6 linked regions of the Homo sapiens genome follow. The protein of the gene in region 1 purifies or fractionates together with the protein of each later gene. This does not show direct contact. Each region holds a gene or a part of one and is shown in the gene's direction. Other genes may lie near its edges. The genes, in order: FBXO38, KIF20B, ARB2A, DEDD2, DNAJC3 and DEDD.

Region 1 (3,796 bases):
AGACTAAAATCAAGCCATTATGCTTTTTTTCTTTACTTCCTACCTGCTCTCCAAGACGTTGAGTCATTTACCAACTCTTGTTGAATGTCTCTGAAACATCTCTCCAGTATGCCTACATCTCTCCTTTCCCATTGTACTACCACTACATCAGACCTTTCTCTTTTTTTTTTTTTTACCTAAATGTTTTAATAGCTTTCAAACTGGCCTATTTTCTTGCCCAGCTAAAATTAGTTCTTATAGCAACCAGGGCAGTCTTTTAACAACAAACCAAACAATATTGATACCTTACTCAAAACTTTTTAATAGCTTCCCATTGCCTTAGAATAAGATCCAGCTTCTTAAATTGGACCACCAAATGCTGTACGATCTGGCCTGCCCTCATCTTGTACTACTTCCACCACTACATCATTCTTGAACATGACAGCTGGTGCCTAGCATTGCACTAACTACTGCCTCCTAGAATTCCCTCCTTCCATGTTTTCATGGCTGGCTCCTTCTTGACTTTTAGTTCTTAGCTGAAATGTTAATCTCAGAGATGTCTTTCCTTGCCATCTGATCTTAAGCAGCCACCAGTTTATTCTCTGTCACATCACACTTTTTGTTACATAAGGCATTACTATCTGATGTTTTTATTTTTATTTTTAAAATTTTTTCTCCCCCAACTAGAGTAAGCCATGAGACTAGGGATCTTGAATTTCACCACTGTTTCTCAGCTCCAAGGAATACTAACAAATTGTAGTAAGATGCTCAGTAAGTATTCAAATGAATGCAATGAAAGAAATCGTTTAAACAACTTTTGGGTATCATATTAAATGTTTGCACAGGCTATTCTGGCAACCTAAAAGCAGTTGATCAGCAACTTTGGAAAACCTTATCACATTGATGTTTGAATGTACTTCTTTTCATGCCATTCCCTGCATAAAAACCTAGTGGTTTCCCTCTGCCTACTGCAAACAATTCTAAGCTTTTTAGCAAGGCTTTCCAAGCTTTTAACAATCTGGGGCCCAGGCTACCTTTTCAGCCTTGTTTTTTCTTTCGCATCTCTATCACAACACAGATAACTGGTTTGTTTGTTTGTTTGTTTGTTTGTTTGTTTGTTTTAACCACTGGACTACTATTCTTCCAAAAAATGTAGCATTCTTGTATGGTGGTATATGAAATGTCACCTTATTTCAGTGAACCCTTCCTTGACCCAATGAGAGAATTAGTTGTTTCTTGTCTGTGTTCCCTTTGAACTTTTGAACTGTTATAGCTCTTAGCAAGTATATTCTGACCTTATTCTATGTGTCTAACATCTTTGCCAGAATGTGTGCATCCTCTTTAAGAGCAAGGAGTATAAATTTCCCACTTGCTCATAGTTCCTGTAGTGCAGTAGGCTCTAGAAACTCCTCAGGTTAAATCCTAGCAAACTGTTAAAACCTCTAGACCTCCATTTCCTCAACTGCAAAAATCAGGCTAGTAATAATGCCCTCACACAAGATTGCTACGAGAAATAAATAAGAAAATGTTTCTATAAACATTTAGCATAGAGCCTGCCATAGAGTATGTACACATTAATTACTGCTACTCATAATTGTTAGTCAATTGAATGAAAGAAGAAAATTGATTGGCTTTTATCATGAAAGGTTTCTAGGCAAGGTCATTTCTCATTTTGGCAATAACCAAAATATAGATATTGCAGGCTAGAGCTGGGCAATTATTCAGGGGGAGGTGTGCTGTTGTGCTTGTTTAAAACCAAAGCAATTCCCACTGTCCCTGTGAAATTTCAAACCTCTCCCATATAATTCAGTGACATTAATCTGAATGGCATCTTTTTGGCTTAATCATATTTTGCCTTGTTTCTTTGTTAACTGTTTGAGTTTGTATGAGTTTGATGGGCTTTCTCCAACAAATGATCCTTTCCCATCTGTGATTTTCTCTCCTGTAGACTGATTAAATACTTCTTAATATCTGCAGTAACAAGCACAGTGTATGCAGTATATGCTGTTCTTTCAGGGCAGGCCTAGTAATCAGCGGGACTGTTCAGTTCTTAGGGCGGCCACAGTTTTGCCTGCCATTGTAGTTCTTTATACTTCTTTTGGTTTTTACTTTGTGTATATTTTCGTTGAAGCATTAAATGAGATGGAAGACATCGTCCAAGAAGATGGAGAGGTGGTGGCCGAGAGTGGAAATAATACTCCAGCTCACAGCCAGGCAATTATTCCTGTGGATGTTGATGAGGAACAAGCAGGTAATCATGTGATCCATCCCACATTCATCATTCTGAAACTACGGCCTAACTGTAATGAAGTACATGAGACAGCGAGAATGATTGTTTTCTGACCTTTCAGCTAATGATACGTTTTATGCTATTGATTACTGAGAACTGTAATACATTGCTGGTATTCTTGTTGCATGTATCTTACTAAAGTTTGTCTTTTATTATTTGTGACTGCAGCAACAACTGCTTTTTCTTTATAGCCACGTGTGCATGAGTTTGTCCATGTATGTGTAGAAAAAGAAAACACTCAAATTGTTGATGGGAAAATAAATGACCTGATTAAATATTCTGCTATTGCCCTCCCCTCAATTCAGTTAGAGAGGAGGAGCAGTTGAGAAGTTGACCTGGTTTAGTAAACAAACCAAAACCTAGCGTCTGTTTGCCATTGGCTGACTTAAGACAGGATATAGAGTCTTAGGCCCTTAAAGATTAACTCGCATAGCCTTTCATTTTGTAGATGGGGAAATTAATTTTCTTTCAAAAGTTTAAATGATGTGCTCAACACCACTCAGCCAATAATCAAGGGACAGAATTGAAATTGAGAAAACTGAAGTTTTCTCATTCTCTGCCTGTTAGAATGCTACCTTGTCTTTGAATCGAAAATATGCTACCCTGTTTTAAGAGTGTTAGAGATGCAGTCACTCATTCAACAAATATTTATTGAGTGCCTACTCTGTGTCAGGCATTGTACAATGTGACAGGAAAAAAGCTAGGTTCCTTGGAGCATACGTTTATTGATGGAGCTAATATTGGTCACTTGTCAGAGAGAATTAGGTTATAAGAACTAGGTTTAAAAGCTATACTGCCAAGCAGATAAAACATTTTTTACATAAATACACATATTCAACCAAAATGTAACATGCGTCTAGCCTTCAAAAATGTATCTGCTACATCTAATGAGATAGATCTATACTCAAAGAATATGGAGTCTTATTTACCAGTCCCATATGTTTCTGAGTTCATCTTCATTTACTAGCCTTGGCTCATATGTTTGAAAAATTGAGAAAATATATAGCTTAGTTTTAAAATTATTATCACTGTTATTTAGATTATTTTTAGGATGATTTTATGATACTCTTTGAAATAGTGAAGGTCCTGCAAGGGGATGCTGTATCATTTTCTATTTTAATTTGCCTTTGGAAATGCATCAAGTTGGTTGGCATATTAATCATATTTAATGTTGACATAATGGTTTAGAGTTGAGTTGCTTTCACAGTATCTTATCCAAGTGCATTATCAGTTAAAATGTGTGCCAGGGGAGGCTGTATAGAGCCACAAAGCATCTCTGTTGATTCCAGATCCCTGGAAACAGTACTTTGCATTAGATCCTTTCTTGCGCAAAAAGTAACTGTTAGGCCTGTGCTTTTTTTTAAGGACCCAGTGGTCTTCAGCGTGTAGTAAAACCAACCTCAATTACTGTTCATGATTCAGAGAGTGATGATGAAGAAGATAGTCTAGAACTCCAAGAAGTCTGGATTCCTAAGAACGGTACTCGGCGTTACTCTGAACGTGAAGAAAAAACTGGAGAGTCAGTGC
Region 2 (3,796 bases), on another chromosome or scaffold:
TTATAATTGTCTTCTGCTCTTATAGATTAGTAACCCTTGTACTTCATATTATATCTGGGATCATTAAACAAGAAGAATTTGATTCTTACATAGTGAGGATATCACATAAAAATACAGGTTAATTAAACAGAAATGGTCAGTGAGGGAGTGAATGGCGGTCAGAAGAACATATGGAATTGATTGTATTAGAGCAAAGTCGTGTAGAAAATTCACATAAAAATTGTACCAGAACAATGTTGTAAAGTCTACTTGCAAACATCATATAAACATCAAACCATGAAGTATAACAAAACAGGAAAAAATTTCTAAAAACGAAGAGTCAGATTCTGGCCTGTTTTGAAGTAAGGTTTCGAGGATCTGAGACACTCATCTGACCCTTAATGGAAATTGTATGAAATATAAAAAGATATGTAGATATAAATTTATATATCTAGAAGATTGTTAATTATATTTCAAGATTTAATCATGGAATCTATGAGGAAAGTTTAAAAGAATATAATTTATACTGGGCACTTACGTGGGGTGAGTTTATTTGTCAGAGTGAACTTATGAATTAAATTGTAGCTAATAGTGTATCTGTTCTGGGTATAATTTGATCTGTACTGATTATAATGGCTAAAGTTCTTACATGTATACAACATTTATGTAGTCATTTAACTTACATTACGTATTAACTCATTTTAGTCTCTTAGCATTATTCTGTAGAGTAAGTTGGGCAGGTAAGGGTATCTTTATTCTAGCAATATACATATTAAGCCTGAAAAAGGCAAACTTTTATGCATTTTCAATTAGTTGAATCCTTCTGTACAGATTTTCAGGTTCTATTAATAGTTAAATCTATCCAATGCACAGTGTCGTCAACCCATTTGTCATCTTGATCTTCACAACTTTGAGATAGGTGGTATTATTCCTATATCACATTTGAGGAAACAGTCGTAGTATGAAGCAGTTTATTAATGGTTACAGCTAGTAAGGCTATATTATATGAATTCCCAAAGTTTTAACATGTCCCTTCTAATTTTAGCTATGAAAATTTAAGATACTCCATTTGCCTATTGCTAATATAGTAAAAGCCACAATATAATTGTAGCTTAAAACTGTTCGTTAGGATATGGAATGTCTGCCTAGGGTTTCTCGTCATCTCCTCCTCTCTGTCCCATATTGAAATGACAATAAAGATTTGTGGTACAAAATTTAAATAATACTGAAAGTTAGAAATAGCTGGTAATGCTACTCAGAGGTAGGTAGCTGCCATCATTTTGGTGTACTTCCTTTGCTAACTTTGTATTACCTTGTGAAATAATAATTTTTACATAAATGGGCTCATACCACATGTTTTAAAACCTGTTTTTTCTTTTTTTCTCAACAGCTTATTTCATTTTTTTTTTTTAATTAGAAGTTTACTTTTACATGTTTTGTATGTTTGAATATTGGCTTATATGGTGACTTTTTGGTTTTATTAAGGTTTGCCAGATTAATAACAATTTTCTTATTTTTAAAGGGTCTATCCATGTTAGTTCAGCTATCACTGAAGACCAAAAGAAAAGTGAAGAAGTGCGACCGAACATTGCAGAAATTGAAGACATCAGAGTTTTACAAGAAAATAATGAAGGACTGAGAGCATTTTTACTCACTATTGAGAATGAACTTAAAAATGAAAAGGAAGAAAAAGCAGAATTAAATAAACAGATTGTTCATTTTCAGCAGGAACTTTCTCTTTCTGAAAAAAAGAATTTAACTTTAAGTAAAGAGGTCCAACAAATTCAGTCAAATTATGATATTGCAATTGCTGAATTACATGTGCAGAAAAGTAAAAATCAAGAACAGGAGGAAAAGATCATGAAATTGTCAAATGAGATAGAAACTGCTACAAGAAGCATTACAAATAATGTTTCACAAATAAAATTAATGCACACGAAAATAGACGAACTACGTACTCTTGATTCAGTTTCTCAGATTTCAAACATAGATTTGCTCAATCTCAGGGATCTGTCAAATGGTTCTGAGGAGGATAATTTGCCAAATACACAGTTAGACCTTTTAGGTAATGATTATTTGGTAAGTAAGCAAGTTAAAGAATATCGAATTCAAGAACCCAATAGGGAAAATTCTTTCCACTCTAGTATTGAAGCTATTTGGGAAGAATGTAAAGAGATTGTGAAGGCCTCTTCCAAAAAAAGTCATCAGATTGAGGAACTGGAACAACAAATTGAAAAATTGCAGGCAGAAGTAAAAGGCTATAAGGATGAAAACAATAGACTAAAGGAGAAGGAGCATAAAAACCAAGATGACCTACTAAAAGAAAAAGAAACTCTTATACAGCAGCTGAAAGAAGAATTGCAAGAAAAAAATGTTACTCTTGATGTTCAAATACAGCATGTAGTTGAAGGAAAGAGAGCGCTTTCAGAACTTACACAAGGTGTTACTTGCTATAAGGCAAAAATAAAGGAACTTGAAACAATTTTAGAGACTCAGAAAGTTGAATGTAGTCATTCAGCCAAGTTAGAACAAGACATTTTGGAAAAGGAATCTATCATCTTAAAGCTAGAAAGAAATTTGAAGGAATTTCAAGAACATCTTCAGGATTCTGTCAAAAACACCAAAGATTTAAATGTAAAGGAACTCAAGCTGAAAGAAGAAATCACACAGTTAACAAATAATTTGCAAGATATGAAACATTTACTTCAATTAAAAGAAGAAGAAGAAGAAACCAACAGGCAAGAAACAGAAAAGTAAGCTAAATGTTATTCAAAATATTTTAAAATACACAAAGCATTCATTTTGCTATGCAGCTTTAAAAAAGTTAGATAGTCATACTTAATCTGGTAAAGCGTAGCATGTATGATGAGTGAAGAACTTGAACTTTGTCCATATAAACCTTTGGACCATAGGTTATGTGAAAAGATCAGCTTATAAAAATCATATGAAATATTTTCTGAAGAACTCATTCATAGTTTGGATATTCCAAATTTGTGAAAAGATATAATTTTGTAAAGATTGTTACCATTTCACATGTATGGTCCTAAGCAGTTAATGATGCATTACCATAGAAAAGTGGTTTATGTTTTTTAGATTGAAAGAGGAACTCTCTGCAAGCTCTGCTCGTACCCAGAATCTGAAAGCAGATCTTCAGAGGAAGGAAGAAGATTATGCTGACCTGAAAGAGAAACTGACTGATGCCAAAAAGCAGATTAAGCAAGTACAGAAAGAGGTAGGTTATTTGAAAAGTTATGTGGCCAGTTTATGATAAAGATTGTTTTCCTTATATATCAAACTTAGACATTAATCTTAGGATTGAATAGAACATTTATCCACTTTATAATTTTTCTTAAAATTACAAGAACAGTTACTTCACGAGAGAAAATTTAGCTGATTTAAACAAGCTGAAGAATGTCCAACATTAAGAGAAATATGTACCTTATGAAAGATTAGTCTTTTTCTTCTTTAAGAATTGCTAAATGTAAGTCCTTACAAAAAAGTGGAAAGCAACTTGTTTACAGATAGTACTTAGGAGAATGTGCAGTATGATTTTTTAGTTTTTATTATAACTTAATTTTTAAAAGGGAATGCAATCACATTATTCCAAATTTGAAATATAATAGATGTATACAATGAGAAGGAAATACTTCCCACTCCTTCGAGCTGTCAAGTTTACCTTCACAGCATCAAATGTTACCAATTTCTTTCTTTTTCTGCACTTCTCCCTCCTTCCCATTTTCTTGTATGACCACTTCATTTTCTGTCGTACTTAGACCTTCTCTAAAGATTGGAGCACTTTTTTTTTTTTTTTTAAACT
Region 3 (3,796 bases), about 54 Mb from region 1:
GTTATTGCTGAAATGCTACTGATTTTTTTGACATTGATTTAGTATCCTGAAACTTTGCAGAAGTTGTTTATCAGATCTAGGAACCATTGGGTAGAGAGCATGGGGTTTTATAAGTGTAGAATCATATCATCTGTGAACAGAGATAGTATGACTTCCTTTTAATTTGGATGCCTTTCATTTGTTTCTCTTGCCTAATTGCTTTGGCTGAAATTTCCAGTACTATGTTGAATAGTTGTGGTGAGAGTGGGCATGCTTGTCTTGTTCCGGTTTTCAAGGGAAATGTCTCTAGCTTTTGCCTATTTAGTATGATGTTTGCTGTGGATTTGTCATAACTGGCTCTTTTTATTTAAGGTATGTTCCTTCAATGTCTAGTTTGTTGAAAATTTTTAACACATGTTAAATTTTATCAAAAGCCTTTTCTGCACCTATTGAGATGATCATATGGTTTTTGTTTTTAGGTTTGTTTATGTGTTGAATCACATTTACTGATTTACATATGTTGACCCAACCTTGTATAACAGGAATAAAGCCATTTTGATCATGGTAGATTAGGTTTTTGATGTGCTGCTGGTTTTGGTGTGCTAGTGTTTGTTGAGGATTTTTACATCTATATTCATCAGGGATATTGGTCTAAAGTTTTCTTTTTTCGTTGTGTTTCTACAAAGTTATGGTATCAGAATGATGCTAGCTTCATAGAATGATTTGACGAGGAGTCCCTTCTCATTTTTTGGAATAGTTTAGTAGGGTTGGTTTCAGCTCTTCTTTATATGTTGGGTGGAATTTGGCTGTCAATCTATCTTTTCCAGGACTTCTTCTGGGTGTAGGCTTTTTATTACTGATCAATTTTGAAATTCACTATTGGTCTGTTCAGGGTTTCAATTTCCTTCTGATTCAATCTTGGGAGGTTGTATGTTTTGAGGAACTTATCCATTTTTCTCTAAGATTTCTAGTTTGTGTAGGTAGAGGTGTTCCTAATAGTCTCTGAGAGTTTTTTTTTTTTATTTCTGTGGGGTCAGTTGTAATGTTCACTTTGTCATTTCTGATTGTGTTTATTTGGACTTCTTTCCTTTTTTCTTTATTTGTCTAGCTAGTGGTCTGTCAATCTTATTTATTCTTTCAGAGAACGACGTTTTGGTTTCATTGACCTTTTGTATAGTTTTTCATGTCTTAGTTTTGTTCAGTCAGCTCTGATTTTGGTTTTTTCTTCTGCTAGCTTTGGGGTTAGTTTACTTTTTTTTTTTTTGGTTGCTCTAGGTGTGATTTTAGGTTGTTAATTTGAGATCTTTCTAACTACTTGATGTAGGTGTTTAGTGCTATATACTTTCCTTTGAAGACTGCTTTAGCTCTGTCTCAGAGAATCTGGTATGTCATTTCTTCCTTTTCATTAGTTTCAAAAAATTTATTGAATTCTGTCTTAATTTCATTGTTTACCCAAAGTCATTCAGGAACAGATTGTTTAATTTCCACATAATTATATGATTTTGAGAGATCTATTCTTGTACTGTGGTTAAGAATGTGGTATAATTTCAGTTTTTTTTTTTTTTTTTTGAATCTGTTGAGAATTCCTTTATGGCTGAGTGTGTGGTCAATATTACAGTATGTGTCATGTGCAGATAAGAAGAATGTATATTCTGTTGTAGTTGAGTGCAGTGTTCTGTAGATATCTGTTAGGGCCATTTGGTCAAATGTCAAGTTTAGGTCCTGAATATCTTTGTTAGTTTTGTGCCTTGATGGTCTGTCTAGTACTGTCAGTGGGTGTCAAGGTGAGGTCTTCCACTATTATCGTGTGGTTATCTAAGTCTCTTTGTAGGTCTCTAAGAACTTATTTTATGAATCTGGGTGCTCCAATGTTGGATGCATGTATATTTAGGGTAGTTAAAGTTTTCATGTTGAATTGAACCCTTTATCATTATTTAATGCCCTTCTTAGTCCTTTTTGATTATTGTTGCTTTCAAGTCTGTTTTGTCTCAAATTAAAAGAGCAATCTGTCTCTTTTTTGTTTTCTGTTTGCTTGATAGATTTTTCTCTATCCCTTACTCTGAGTCTGTGGGTGTCATTGCATGTGAGAGGGGTCTGTTGAAGATAGTATGTAGTTAGGTCATGTTTCTTTATTCAAATTGCCACTCTGTGTCTCTTAAGTGGTGTAGTTAGTCCATTTACATTCAGAGTCAGTATTGATATGTGAACATTTGATCCTGTTATGCTGTTATCTGCTTGTTATGTAGACTTAATTTTGTAGTTGCTTTATGGTGTCAATGGTCTGTGTACTTAAGTGTGTTTGTTTTTGTGGTGGCCAGTAATGGCCTTTCAATTTCATATTTAGTGCTTCCGTAAGGACCTCTTATAAGGCAGGTCTGGTGGTAGTGAATTCCCTTAGTATTTGCTTATCTGAAAAGGATTTTATTTCTCTTTTACTTATGAAGCAAAGTTTGGCTAGATATGAAATTCTTGGTTAGAATTTCCTTTCTTTAAGAATGCTGAATAAAGGTCCCCAGTCTTTTCTGGCTTGTAGGGTTTCTGCTGAAAGGTCAGCTGTTAGCCTGATGGGGTTCCCTTTGTAGGTGACCTCTCCCTTCTTTTTAGCTCCCTTTAAGATTTTTTCTTTCACTTTGACCATGGAGAATCTGAAGACTATTTGTCTTCAGCATGGTTGTCTTGAATAGCATCTTACAGGGGTTCTCTGCAGTTTCTGAATTTGAATGTCTACCTCCCCAGTGAGGTTAGGGAAATTTTCATAATTTTTAATTATGTTTTCTAAGTTGCTTTCTCATGTCTCTCTCTTTCAGGGATGCCAATGTGTCATATGTTTGGTCTGTTTACATAATCCCATGTTTTTTGGAGATTTTGTTCATTCTTTTTATTCGTTTGCCTTTATTTTTGTCTGATTGAGTTCATTCGAAGAATTGGTCTTTGAACTTTGAGATTCTTTCCTCAGTTTTGTCTATTCTTTTCTCAGCACTTCTGATTGTATTATGAAATTCTTTTAGTTTTTCATCTCTATCAGATCAGTTTGGTTCCTTCTTAAAATGACTATTTCATCTTTAAGTTCTTGTATTATTTTATTGGATTCCTTAGATTCCTTGGATTGGGTTTCAGCTTTCTCCTGAATCTTGATGATTCTCCTTGCCATCCAGATTCTGAATTCTATGTCTATAATTTCAGCCTGGTTAAGAACCATTCTTTGGCAGGTGGTGCAGTCATTTGGAGGTAGGAAGACACTCTGACTTTTTTTTTTTTTTTTTACTTTGGAATTATTAATATTATTTCCTATGATATAACATAGTTAAAGCTAATTTTCAGGAGGAAAGTTTCATTTTGTAATTATTCATTATTTACACTATGACGGGGAGGGCTTTAGTATTCTTTTTTTTTTCCTGGTTATTCCTTTTTTTAAAAAATTATTTTAGGTTTGGGGATACGTGTGTAGGTTTGCTACATAGATAACATGTGTCACAGGGTTTGTTGTACATATTACTACATCACCCAGGTATCAAGCTCAGTACCCAATAGTCATCTTTTCTGCTAATTGCCCTCCTCCTCACCTCCCTCTCTTAAGTAGACCCCAGTGTCTGTTGTTCCTTTCTTTATGTTCATGAGTTCTCATCATTTGGCTCCCACTTACAAGTGAGAACATGCAGTCAGTATTTGTTTTTCAGTTACTGTGTTAGTTTGCTAAGGATGATAGCCTTCAGCTTCATCCATGTTCCCGCAGAAGACATTATCTCATTTTTTTATGACTGTGTAATATTCCATGGTGTGTATTTACCACATTTTCTTTATCCAGTCTGTCATTGAT
Region 4 (2,876 bases), on another chromosome or scaffold:
GATAGCCTTAGAAGTCCAGTGTCCTGTCCCCTGTACACAGCTGCCACCTCTTTTGCGCAGATGTGGGGAGAGTTGTGACAGAAACCGACTCAAACTGGCTTCAGCAAAAAGGGGAGTTGAGTGTAGCTGAAAATCCAGCTACGATCGTGGGCTCATGTGATGACCTCAGGAATCTTTTTATCTCTGGGGCTGGCCCTGCGTAGGCTTCCTTCTCTCCTCTTGGCACAGTGGCTCCCAGCAGCTCTGGGCTTCCAACCCATCATCTTAGCAGCTCTGTGGCAAGAGAGTACCTGACTCCCAGTAGAGCCAGCACAGGTCCAGCCGCAAGCCTCCCGGGCCTGGTCAGGACCCTGCGCATCCGCAGTGCTGGCTCAGGTGGATGGGAGGGATGGGGATGTGGTTGGCACCATGTGAATCTCATTGTTTGGGGGCAGGGTGTGAGGCTGGTTGCCTTAAGGCAAGTCCATTAGTTCATGCATTAGTTCTTCACAAATACATATTGAACACCTACTATGTGCCACAGTTACACAAGTGAACAAAACAGACAAAAACCCCTTCCTTGCTGTCATCTGTCTCTCCATGCTGAGTGTAGAGACAGATAATGAGCAGATAGTAACTGACAGAGGAGGTTGGAAGGTGATAAGTGCCTTGGACAAAAATGGAGCAGGGTGTGGGACCTGGCATGCTGCAGAGAGGGCTGGGTGGGTGGTTACAGCTGTAAATAGGTTGGCCTAGGTGGGCCTTGTTGGCAAGGTGGCTTTTGAGCAAAGACCTGCAGGAAGAGAGGGAGCAAGTGTTGTGCAGATCCAGGGAAAGAGCACCCCTGGCGGTGGGGAGGCTTGTTGGAGCAGTGAGGAGGTGGTGGGCTGGAGAAGAGGAGGACGTACTTGGTCAGGGAACCCCACAGAGCCGGGGAGGCTGTGTCAGGACTAGGGTGTGGCTACCGGAAGGGGGTGGAGGGAGAAGGCTGGAGGGAGGAAGGGTGGCGTTCCCCATAAGTGTGTCTAGTGTTGGCCCCCTCCCTGACAAATCCCTCCTTCCCCTGCAGACATCCGGCTCCGGGTTCGAGCAGAGTACTGCGAGCATGGGCCAGCCTTGGAGCAGGGCGTGGCATCCCGGCGGCCCCAGGCGCTGGCGCGGCAGCTGGACGTGTTTGGGCAGGCCACCGCAGTGCTGCGCTCAAGGGACCTGGGCTCTGTGGTTTGTGACATCAAGTTCTCAGAGCTCTCCTATCTGGACGCCTTCTGGGGCGACTACCTGAGTGGCGCCCTGCTGCAGGCCCTGCGGGGCGTGTTCCTGACTGAGGCCCTGCGAGAGGCTGTGGGCCGGGAGGCTGTTCGCCTGCTGGTCAGTGTGGATGAGGCTGACTATGAGGCTGGCCGGCGCCGCCTGTTGCTGATGGAGGAGGAAGGGGGGCGGCGCCCGACAGAGGCCTCCTGATCCAGGACTGGCAGGATTGATCCCACCTCCAAGTCTCCGGGCCACCTTCTCCTGGGAGGACGACCATCTCTACCCCTAGAGGACTGTCACTCTAGCATCTTTGAGGACTGCGACAGGACCGGGACAGCAGGCCCCTTGACAGCCCCTCCCACAGGATGTGGGCTCTGAGGCCTAAACCATTTCCAGCTGAGTTTCCTTCCCAGACTCCTCCTACCCCCAGGTGTGCCCCCTTAGCCTCCGGAGGCGGGGGCTGGGCCTGTATCTCAGAAGGGAGGGGCACAGCTACACACTCACCAAAGGCCCCCCTGCACATTGTATCTCTGATCTTGGGCTGTCTGCACTGTCACAGGTGCACACACTCGCTCATGCTCACACTGCCCCTGCTGAGATCTTCCCTGGGCCTCTGCCCTGGCCTGCTTCCCAGCACACACTTCTTTGGCCTAAGGGCTTCTCTCTCAGGACCTCTAATTTGACCACAACCAACCTGGGCTTCAGCCACATCAGTGGGCACTGGAGCTGGGGTGCACATGGGGCCTGCTCACCTTGCCCACACATCTCCAGCCAGCCAGGGCCCTGCCCAGCTTCAATTTACAGACCTGACTCTCCTCACCTTCCCCCCTGCTGTCCAGAGCTGAACATAGACTTGCACTTGGATGTCACCTGGAGTGTCACATGGGAGTGTTATGGCAGCATCATACCAAGGCCTACTGTTGCACATGGGGCCAAAACCAGTAAACAGCCACCTTCTTGGAAAGGGAATGCAAAGGCTTTGGGGGTGATGGAAAAGACCTTTTACAAATGATACCAATTAAACTGCCCTGGAAAGGGCATAGGTGGGCATCGGCCTCTCTAGGACTCTTTATTTATTATTTAATTTAAATTTTTTTTTTAGAGTTGAGGGTCTTGATATGTTGCCCAGGCCAGCCTCAAATTCCTGGGCTCAAGCGATCCTCCTGCCTCAGCCTCCCAAGTAGCTGGGACTACAGGTGCCCGTCACCATGCCCAGCTTTTGGACCTCAGTGGGCTGGGAGGAGGAGTGTTCCTGGCCCAGCGTTAGGGACTGGAGTGTGGGCAGGATGCTGGACCATATGCCAGCTGATAACCACACGCTTGTCCTCCCCTCTGGGTGTCAGTCTTGTCCTCTGTCAAAGGAAGAAATAGAATACTGCCTCGGAGTCAGAAACCCTTCCAACCATGTTCACACATGCTTTGCTCCTGTATGTCCTTGGGGGCTCCCAGGAATTTTTTTTTTTTTTTTTTTTTGAGACGGAGTCTTGCTCTGTTGCCCAGGCTGGAGTGCAGTGGCATGATCTCAGCTCACTGCAAGCTCCGCCTCCCAGGTTCACGCCATTCTCCTGCCTCAGCCTCCCGAGTAGCTGGGACTACAGGTGCCCGCCACCACGCCCGGGTAATTTTTTGTATTTTTAGTAGAGACG
Region 5 (3,796 bases), on another chromosome or scaffold:
TAGAATTGTACATTTGAAATGAGCAATTTTATGCTATATAAATTATGTCTTTATAAAGTTATTTTAAAAAGAGGCAGTGTGCAGATCTCTTAAAGCCACATCATGCACCTTTTAGTAAGGTATTACTCTTATTTCCTTCTAAATTCTTTCTTGTACTTTAACCCTTTTGGTATCAGATCTTTTTTTAAATCTTACAACCTCTAAAAAAGCTGGCCCCTTCTTTCAGTTTCCCTATGTGTTTCATTATTTTGGTTATTTTATACTTAAAAAAATACTTAGGAACTATAAGTAGAAGGCAAAATAAATAAAACTCAAGTTAATTTATTCTGCAGAGCTATATGTAAGAAAGTGAAAAACGTGCTTTCCTTCCTCCGTTCTTCTCTGTCCTTTCACGTGCCTACATGTATTTGCTTCCCGGTAAGTTTTTGGGACCCAGGTCTTCTGAGTCTAGATCTGTTGTTCATGCTCATGGACCATATCGGTAGAAATCAAGGGCCTTCCCTGCTGCATCCAGTCATCAGACAAGCCAGTTTTTCCAGTATCTCTTTACCCTTTTTACCCAATGAACTTAAGTATTTGGAATGGTTTACCCTTGTGTATATTACAGGTATCAGATTTAAGAGATTAAAAACTCTGCTTAGTTTTTTATTTTCCTTATAGCTCAAATCTAATCCAAGTGAAAATGAAGAAAAGGAAGCACAGTCTCAACTTATAAAATCTGATGAAATGCAGCGTTTGCGTTCACAAGCACTTAACGCTTTTGGAAGTGGAGATTATACTGCTGCTATAGCCTTCCTTGATAAGATTTTAGAGGTAAGTTTCTTAGATACTGCAGTTGACCAGCCTGACACTTATTGTAAGGCACATTTATATACTTCGACATGTCACATACCACAAAGACCTAGACAGGAGAAAATCAGGTTGGTCCTTGGGCTTTTGCCTCTTAAGTATAAAATAGTGTTCCTAGACAACAAAATTTGGACTGAAGTTTTCAGTAAATGTACTGAATGTGCTGTGGCATGAGAGTTAAATATGTTTATAAATTGCTTGCTTTGCTATTTTAGTTGATTTTGTATTTTTTTGGGAAGAAAACTCTAGCGGTTAGATAATGGGATAAAAGATGAAAAAGATGGTTGGAGTAAAAGGAAAAATGATGTTCGGGAGGAAAGAGGAATGTTTAGAGAAAAATTTCTAGAGAATAAGGCAGATAAAGAGTTGATAGTATGTGCCTGTAGTCCTAGTTACTTGGGAGCTGAGGCTGGAGGATCACTTGAGCCCAAGAATTTGTCGCTGCAGTGAGCTGTGATTGCTCCACTGTACCCCAGCCTGGGCGACAGAATGGGACCCTGCCTCTAAAAATATTAATAATTGGCTGGGTGTGGTGGCTCATGCCTGTAATCCCAGCACTTTGGGAGGTCGAGGTGGGTGGATCACTTGAGGCCAGGAGTTTGAGACTAGCCTGGCCAACATGGCAAAATCCTGTGTCTAAAAAAAAAAAAAAGAAAATTAGCTGGGTGTGGTGTGCATGCTTGTGATCCCAGCTACTCGGGAGGCTGAGGCGCTCGAACCTGAGAAGCAGAGGTTGCAGTGAGCCACTACACTGTAGCCTGGGCCACAGAGTGAGACTCCGTCTCAAAAAAAAAAAAAAAAGTTAATAATAATAATGGTTGATAGGATCCAGAGAGTTCTAGCTAGGGAAACCTGAGTCTAGGTTTCCTTGCCTCTGAAGGATTTAATGACAACTGATTTCCGAAGGAAGTCTACTGAAATATTCAAATGGAAGCAGTCGTAATTCACATTTATTTGTGATTTTCACAGTATTTTGATATACAGTTTCATTTAATTTTGGCTCTAAACTTATGATGTATGTAGAATGGGCAATTTGTTGATAATTTTACAGAAGATATTGTGATATGGTCCAGTAGAATTCATGTTTTACTGGGTTATTTTGTTTATGCTTTTTTAAGGAAATATAGTTTACATTTTTACATTCCCATAGACTATCCATTTTGAACTTAGTTCATTGTCCATGATATTTATGTATAATGTTGGTTTTGATATTTTTGTATATGTGAAAAGTCGATACGACTTTAGAGCAGCTCTAAGAAATATGCAAAGATACTTCCACCAGCCTTATTGATGAGCTCTTGGGTTTATGATTTGAAGAATACTATTGTGTTTCCTAAACCCTTATGGACTTTTTGATAAAATAGGAATGGTGAAGCCTCAACCTCCTGCCCTCTCACGGTATTTTTTCTTTCTTTCTTTCTTTTTCTTGATATGAGGATTTACTTTTAAGGCGGTGACATTTACAGAAGATAATTTCTTAAAAAAGGTTTTTGTTTAGAGACTGGGTCTCTCTCTGTTACCTAGACTGGAGTGCAGTGGTGCGATTGTAGCTCACTGTAACCTTGAACTCCTGGACTCAAGTGATCCTCCCATCTCAGCCTCCTGAGTAGCTGGGACCACTGGTGTGTTCCACCACACCCAGTTAATAATTTTAAACTTTTTATAGAGATGAGATCTTGCTTTGCTGCCTAAGCTGGTCTGGAATTACAGGCATGAGTCAATGTGCCCAGCTAAGAACATAATGTGGTTATTAGCAGAAAAAAGTATTTTGCCAATGTAGAACCTAGGTTTTATTTTTTTGACTACAAATTAGAATTGTTGATTAAGTATAAAAATCTGATAACAGAATATTCTCTTCAAATATGCTTCACTAGGAACAACCCTCCAATAGTAAATGCTATGTTTTCTTATTTTCAGTGTCTTAGAATTATATAATCGAAGGAGGTAAGAAAAGGGCCTTGTTATTATATATATCTCTTCCCCCATTAGAATTCATTTACAACATTTTTGGAGAAACTATTTTGTCACATCAGTTTTGTCACATTTAAATTGTATCAGATTTTAAAATAATATTTGCACTATATAAGTCATCACATCAATTGAGAATGTTTTATGTTGATAAATACGTAGATAAAAAATACGTGGAATGCAACAATGAATGTGCATAATTTATTCTTTCTTAAAGTCTAGTTCTTTTGTTCCTCAAGGTTTGTGTTTGGGATGCAGAACTACGGGAACTTCGAGCTGAATGTTTTATAAAAGAAGGAGAACCTAGGAAAGCTATAAGTGACTTAAAAGCTGCGTCAAAGTTGAAGAATGATAATACTGAAGCGTTTTATAAAATAAGCACACTGTACTACCAACTAGGAGACCACGAACTGTCCCTCAGGTCAGTTCTAGTGACACACATGTCTGATCTTTTTTAATTGTTGGCAGTAAGATTACCTCATCTTGTTTTAACATTTTAATATTAAATTAATAAGATGATGGTAGTTAAGGCTGTTTTTATATTGTATATCCATTTATATATTTTGTGTTATTCCCAAGTTACTTTAATTCCACATAGTTTGTTTTCATGAAGCTGCTTATTAAACAGGAAGGCTCTTATATTTATAGAAACAAAATGGAATGTTTACTATATAATGCTAGTAAGTCATTTTAATTTGAATTAACAAATGTATGCATGGTACAATGCCACGTATAAATGTATATAGTAAATTATAAGTCTCAGTATGGTTTTTGTTTAATCGTTGCAAACAAAAAATACTTTTATTGTGATTTCTGTGGAAAACTACTCATTGATTGTTTTGACATGGAGTATTTTCCTTTTTTAAATACATGAACAGTGAAGTTCGGGAATGTCTTAAACTTGACCAGGATCATAAAAGGTGTTTTGCACACTATAAACAAGTAAAGAAACTTAATAAGCTGATTGAGTCAGCTGAAG
Region 6 (3,796 bases), on another chromosome or scaffold:
GTTACATTCTCCTCACCATTCTGATACCTGTCATCTAGAATCTCTGTATGTTTTAAGTTGAGCTCCCTTGCTTCACTGTCACAGAAATACGAGTATATTTTGGTTTTAGAGGAAATTGGTCATGTTTTCTTTTCTAATTTTACTAATCAGCTGAACTTTCATCACTTTTTTTTTTTTTTTTTTTGAGGCAAGGTCTCACTCTGTACCCCAGGCTGGAGTGCAGTGGTGCGATCAGAGTAGCTGGGACCACAGGTATGTCCCACTATGCCCAGCTAATTTTTGTTTATTGTTTGTAGAGATGGAGTTGTGTCATGTTGCTCAGGCTGGTCTCGAACTCCTGGGCTCAAGCAGTCCTCCTGCCTTGGTCTCCCAAAGTGTTGAGATTACAAGTGTGAGCCACCATGCGAGGCCTCATCACATTCTTTTAATGTTAAAGTTAGATAGATTCTTGGAACCCTTATCTGGGTTGCATTAAGTGGAGAGGGCTGCCTCTTAACCTGCATGACAGTATCCTCATATTTCTCCCAAGCACATGGCCTTGAGGAACTTACATATTTCTATGTTTGCTTCATTGAATAAGCAATATAAGTCTGATTAGTGACCTCACAAGGAGAATTTGCTGCTCATCCAGTTCCAAGACTTTAAAGATGACCCTGAGGCTTACGAGCAGGATCCTTTGTGTCTGTCTTGCAGAGGATTACATTTCTAATATCCCCATAGAACTCCAGATTGAACTAGGTCAAAGTAGACCTCCTGGGATGGGGCAGAAGTGGATGTAGAACTACCACCTGTTCCTCAGCTGAATGGCAACAGCAGGTGACAGAGGACCCAAGGTTGGAGTGGCATGAAACACCTTAGTGCAGTTGGACTTGGGAGTTAAATGAACATGTATGTCCGACAGGCTTTTCTTTTCTTCTGGAATGTTGTTTGATGGGTTTGGATGGAGGGACCAGATGGCTTTTTCTAGATCTAGTGTGGAAAGTGACATGCATTCTTTTGACCCTTTACCATGCTCCACCTAGAATAGGGTTTCTCATCCTTGGCATTATTGACATTTTGTGCTGCATGATTCTTTGTTGTGGCAGACTGTTCTGTGCATTACAGGATGTTTCTTTTTTCTTTTGAGACAGGGTTTCACTCTGTCACCTGGGCTGGACTGCAGTGGCGCTATCACATCCCACTGCAGCTTCGACCTCCCAGGCTCAAGCGATTCTTCTACCTTAGCCTCCCAAGTAGCTGGGATCACAGGTGCATGCCACCACGCCAGGCTAATTTTTATATTTTGCATAGAGATGGGGTTTCACCATGTTGTCCAAGCTGATCTCAAACTCCTGGGCTCAAGTGTTCCTCCCACCTTGGCCTCTCAAAGTGCAGGGATTACAGACGGGAGCCACTGCACCTGTCCTATAGGATGTTTCTAAATATCCCTGGCTTCTACTCATTACATGCTGATGGCAGTCCCCTTCCCCACCAGGCATAATAATCAGAAATGTCTCCAGACATTGCCACATATTCCCCAGGGGTCAAATTTGCCCCTGGTTCAGAACCACTGACCTAAAAGCTATTATAATTCCTAGTACATTGATGATCTAGCCTGGGATCTAGGACTTAAAGGTGGCTAGTGTGTTTGTTTCCTCTCAAATGTAGGGAGTTAACTTCAAAGGATTGAAGCTTATAGAATTACATCCATTGATACATAATTAGGACCACAGTGCTTTCCTGTATTTTGCCTTATTTTCCATTGCGAGGGTATGTGGGGACAGTGTTTCTTCATTTCCTGGGGTTTAAGCACACTTTAAATTAGGGAACTGTGGAGCAACCAGCTCTTCTGGTTGGTTTAATGTGAAACCTACCCAATCTGCTTTATCTGAGAGCCTCACAATCAACAGCTGGCCCAAGGGAACAGGTGGGATAGGGAACAAAGAGAAGTTGCAGGGGCTCTGAGGAGGCTCAGTTTTCTCATGTTGCCTGCTATGAGCAATAACTTATTTTCCTTTAGCACCTTCATTTGTACCCAGTAACAGCAACAGGTGAATCGAGAGGAAGAGGCAAGGAATACCAGTCTATAGTTGAATAGCTATTTCCCATGCTTTGGGTGGGGCATCTGGGCTCTCAAAACTATATATGGATTACATTTCCTGTCTACATATCAGAACCCATGGTATAGGGTTAAGTGATCCCAGAGTGTACCTCCCCTTTTCTTAAGGGAATGAGTTTCTCTGTGCTTTCATTTTAGTTTTTCATCTGAGGAAGAAAGGACCAGTTCCTACTTACTCTTCAGCTTTCTCTATCAGCTTTGTTTTTCCAAAGAAGCTTATTATTTTATTGTTTCCTAGTCTAGCCTCAGTTCCTTTTTGTATAAAATGGACAGAGCAACCTGTTTAATTGTTGAGTAGGGTAGAGTGGTGTGGTATGGTGTGGGTAGTTCTGGACATTGCAGAGGAGGCTATGGCTAGTTAGAATATATGCATGGTAACTGAATTACCTGTATCTGTTTTTAATGGGGTCCTCTCTTGGACTTTTGTGAATTTGTTTCTTAATTGGAATTGCTTGAGGTGATCTCTTGGAGATTAAGTTCAGTTCAACAGTGGGTTGCTCCCACTATATTTGAGGCTCTGTCCATTACTAGGCACTAGGGATATAAAGATGAATATATCTCTCCATGAGTTGAGTAGGATCTAATGGGATAATAAATACACAAATAATTTTAGTACATGGTGATAAATGGTGTAAAGGAGATATGCATAGTGTTCCATAAGCGCACAGAAGAGGACTACTTATCTCTGCATGGGGGTGTAGAAAATGCATTTTGAAGATGGCATCTGAGCTGACTCTTAAAGAATGAGTAGGAGTTAGCCATCTGAAAAAGAGTGATGATGGGGGTGTGGAATAGAGAAGGGAGAGGGGCATTCAGGCAAAGAGAAGAGCCTGAAGAAGGTATAGAGAAATTGCATGATGTATGTGAACTATAAACAAACTGATAATGTTAGAGAATAAAAAGCGGATGTGATGGGAAATGAGGTTGGGAAGGTAGGCCTGATCTTAGAAGGCTTGATGTGTGTGTAAAGAATTTGGAGTGTTCGGCCAGGCGTGGTGGCTCACACCTGTAATCTCAGCACTTTCGGAGGCCGAGGCAGGCGGATCACAAGGTCAGGAGTTCGAGACCAGTCTGGCCAATATGGTGAAACCCCGTCTCTACTAAAAATACAAAAAGTAGCTGGGCGTGGTGGTGGGTGCCTGTAGTCCCAGCTACTCGGGAAGCTGAGGCAGGAGAATCGCTTGAACCTGGGAGGCGGAGGTTGCAGTGAGCCAAGATCGCGCCACTGCACTGCAGCCTGGGCGACAGAGTGACTCTGTCTCAAAAAAAAAAAAAAAAAAAAGAGTTTGGAGTGTTCTTATAGATAACGATGGGGCAATCAATGGGTCTGAAGCAGGAAAGTGACTTGGTCAGTTGTGGACTTCAGACAGCTAACTGAACTAGATGTGGCAGTGGATGGATTTAGGTAGGTTAAGATTGGTGTTGCAGAGAACTTTTAAAGTTACAGTAGTCCAGGTGAGAGATTATTGTAATCTGAACCATGGCAGTGGAGGTGGAAAGGTAGGATAGATTTAAGAAATATCTAGAAGTAGCATTAACAGGAATTTAGGATTGATTGTGTGATTGGAGAGTGTGACCAGAGAGTGCACAGTATAGGATGGTACTGTCTGGTGGAGCAGTAAGTATGAGTGACTTGAGTCAAAGTTGTTGAATTTGGGAATTGATTAATGGCTGCGTCATTGGTATTACCTGTAGCCC

Evidence for each region.
Region 2: the proteins of FBXO38 (region 1) and KIF20B purify together in Homo sapiens (affinity purification with western blotting, with the first as the bait; one study listed by BioGRID). This does not show direct contact.
Region 3: the proteins of FBXO38 (region 1) and ARB2A purify together in Homo sapiens (affinity purification with mass spectrometry, with the first as the bait; one large-scale study listed by BioGRID). This does not show direct contact.
Region 4: the proteins of FBXO38 (region 1) and DEDD2 purify together in Homo sapiens (affinity purification with mass spectrometry, with the first as the bait; one large-scale study listed by BioGRID). This does not show direct contact.
Region 5: the proteins of FBXO38 (region 1) and DNAJC3 purify together in Homo sapiens (co-immunoprecipitation; one large-scale study listed by IntAct). This does not show direct contact.
Region 6: the proteins of FBXO38 (region 1) and DEDD purify together in Homo sapiens (affinity purification with mass spectrometry, with the first as the bait; one large-scale study listed by BioGRID). This does not show direct contact.

The regions. Positions count from the first base shown.
Region 1 is NC_000005.10:148,421,888-148,425,683, forward strand, and holds part of FBXO38 (F-box only protein 38), read left to right. Parts: intron 1-2,110; coding exon 2,111-2,230; intron 2,231-3,634; coding exon 3,635-3,796. UniProt on the Homo sapiens protein: Substrate recognition component of a SCF (SKP1-CUL1-F-box protein) E3 ubiquitin-protein ligase complex which mediates the ubiquitination and subsequent proteasomal degradation of PDCD1/PD-1, thereby regulating T-cells-mediated immunity.
Region 2 is NC_000010.11:89,735,886-89,739,681, forward strand, and holds part of KIF20B (kinesin-like protein KIF20B), read left to right. Parts: intron 1-1,501; coding exon 1,502-2,732; intron 2,733-3,072; coding exon 3,073-3,211; intron 3,212-3,796. UniProt on the Homo sapiens protein: Plus-end-directed motor enzyme that is required for completion of cytokinesis. Required for proper midbody organization and abscission in polarized cortical stem cells.
Region 3 is NC_000005.10:94,101,548-94,105,343, reverse strand, and holds part of ARB2A (cotranscriptional regulator ARB2A isoform 1 precursor), read left to right. Parts: intron 1-3,796. UniProt on the Homo sapiens protein: Plays a role in the regulation of alternative splicing, by interacting with AGO2 and CHD7. Seems to be required for stabilizing protein-protein interactions at the chromatin-spliceosome interface. May have hydrolase activity.
Region 4 is NC_000019.10:42,198,002-42,200,877, reverse strand, and holds the end of DEDD2 (DNA-binding death effector domain-containing protein 2), read left to right. Parts: intron 1-1,048; coding exon 1,049-1,440; 3' UTR 1,441-2,280; downstream 2,281-2,876. UniProt on the Homo sapiens protein: May play a critical role in death receptor-induced apoptosis and may target CASP8 and CASP10 to the nucleus. May regulate degradation of intermediate filaments during apoptosis.
Region 5 is NC_000013.11:95,756,984-95,760,779, forward strand, and holds part of DNAJC3 (dnaJ homolog subfamily C member 3 precursor), read left to right. Parts: intron 1-660; coding exon 661-813; intron 814-3,056; coding exon 3,057-3,238; intron 3,239-3,695; coding exon 3,696-3,796. UniProt on the Homo sapiens protein: Involved in the unfolded protein response (UPR) during endoplasmic reticulum (ER) stress.
Region 6 is NC_000001.11:161,125,928-161,129,723, reverse strand, and holds part of DEDD (death effector domain-containing protein), read left to right. Parts: intron 1-3,796. UniProt on the Homo sapiens protein: A scaffold protein that directs CASP3 to certain substrates and facilitates their ordered degradation during apoptosis. May also play a role in mediating CASP3 cleavage of KRT18. Regulates degradation of intermediate filaments during apoptosis.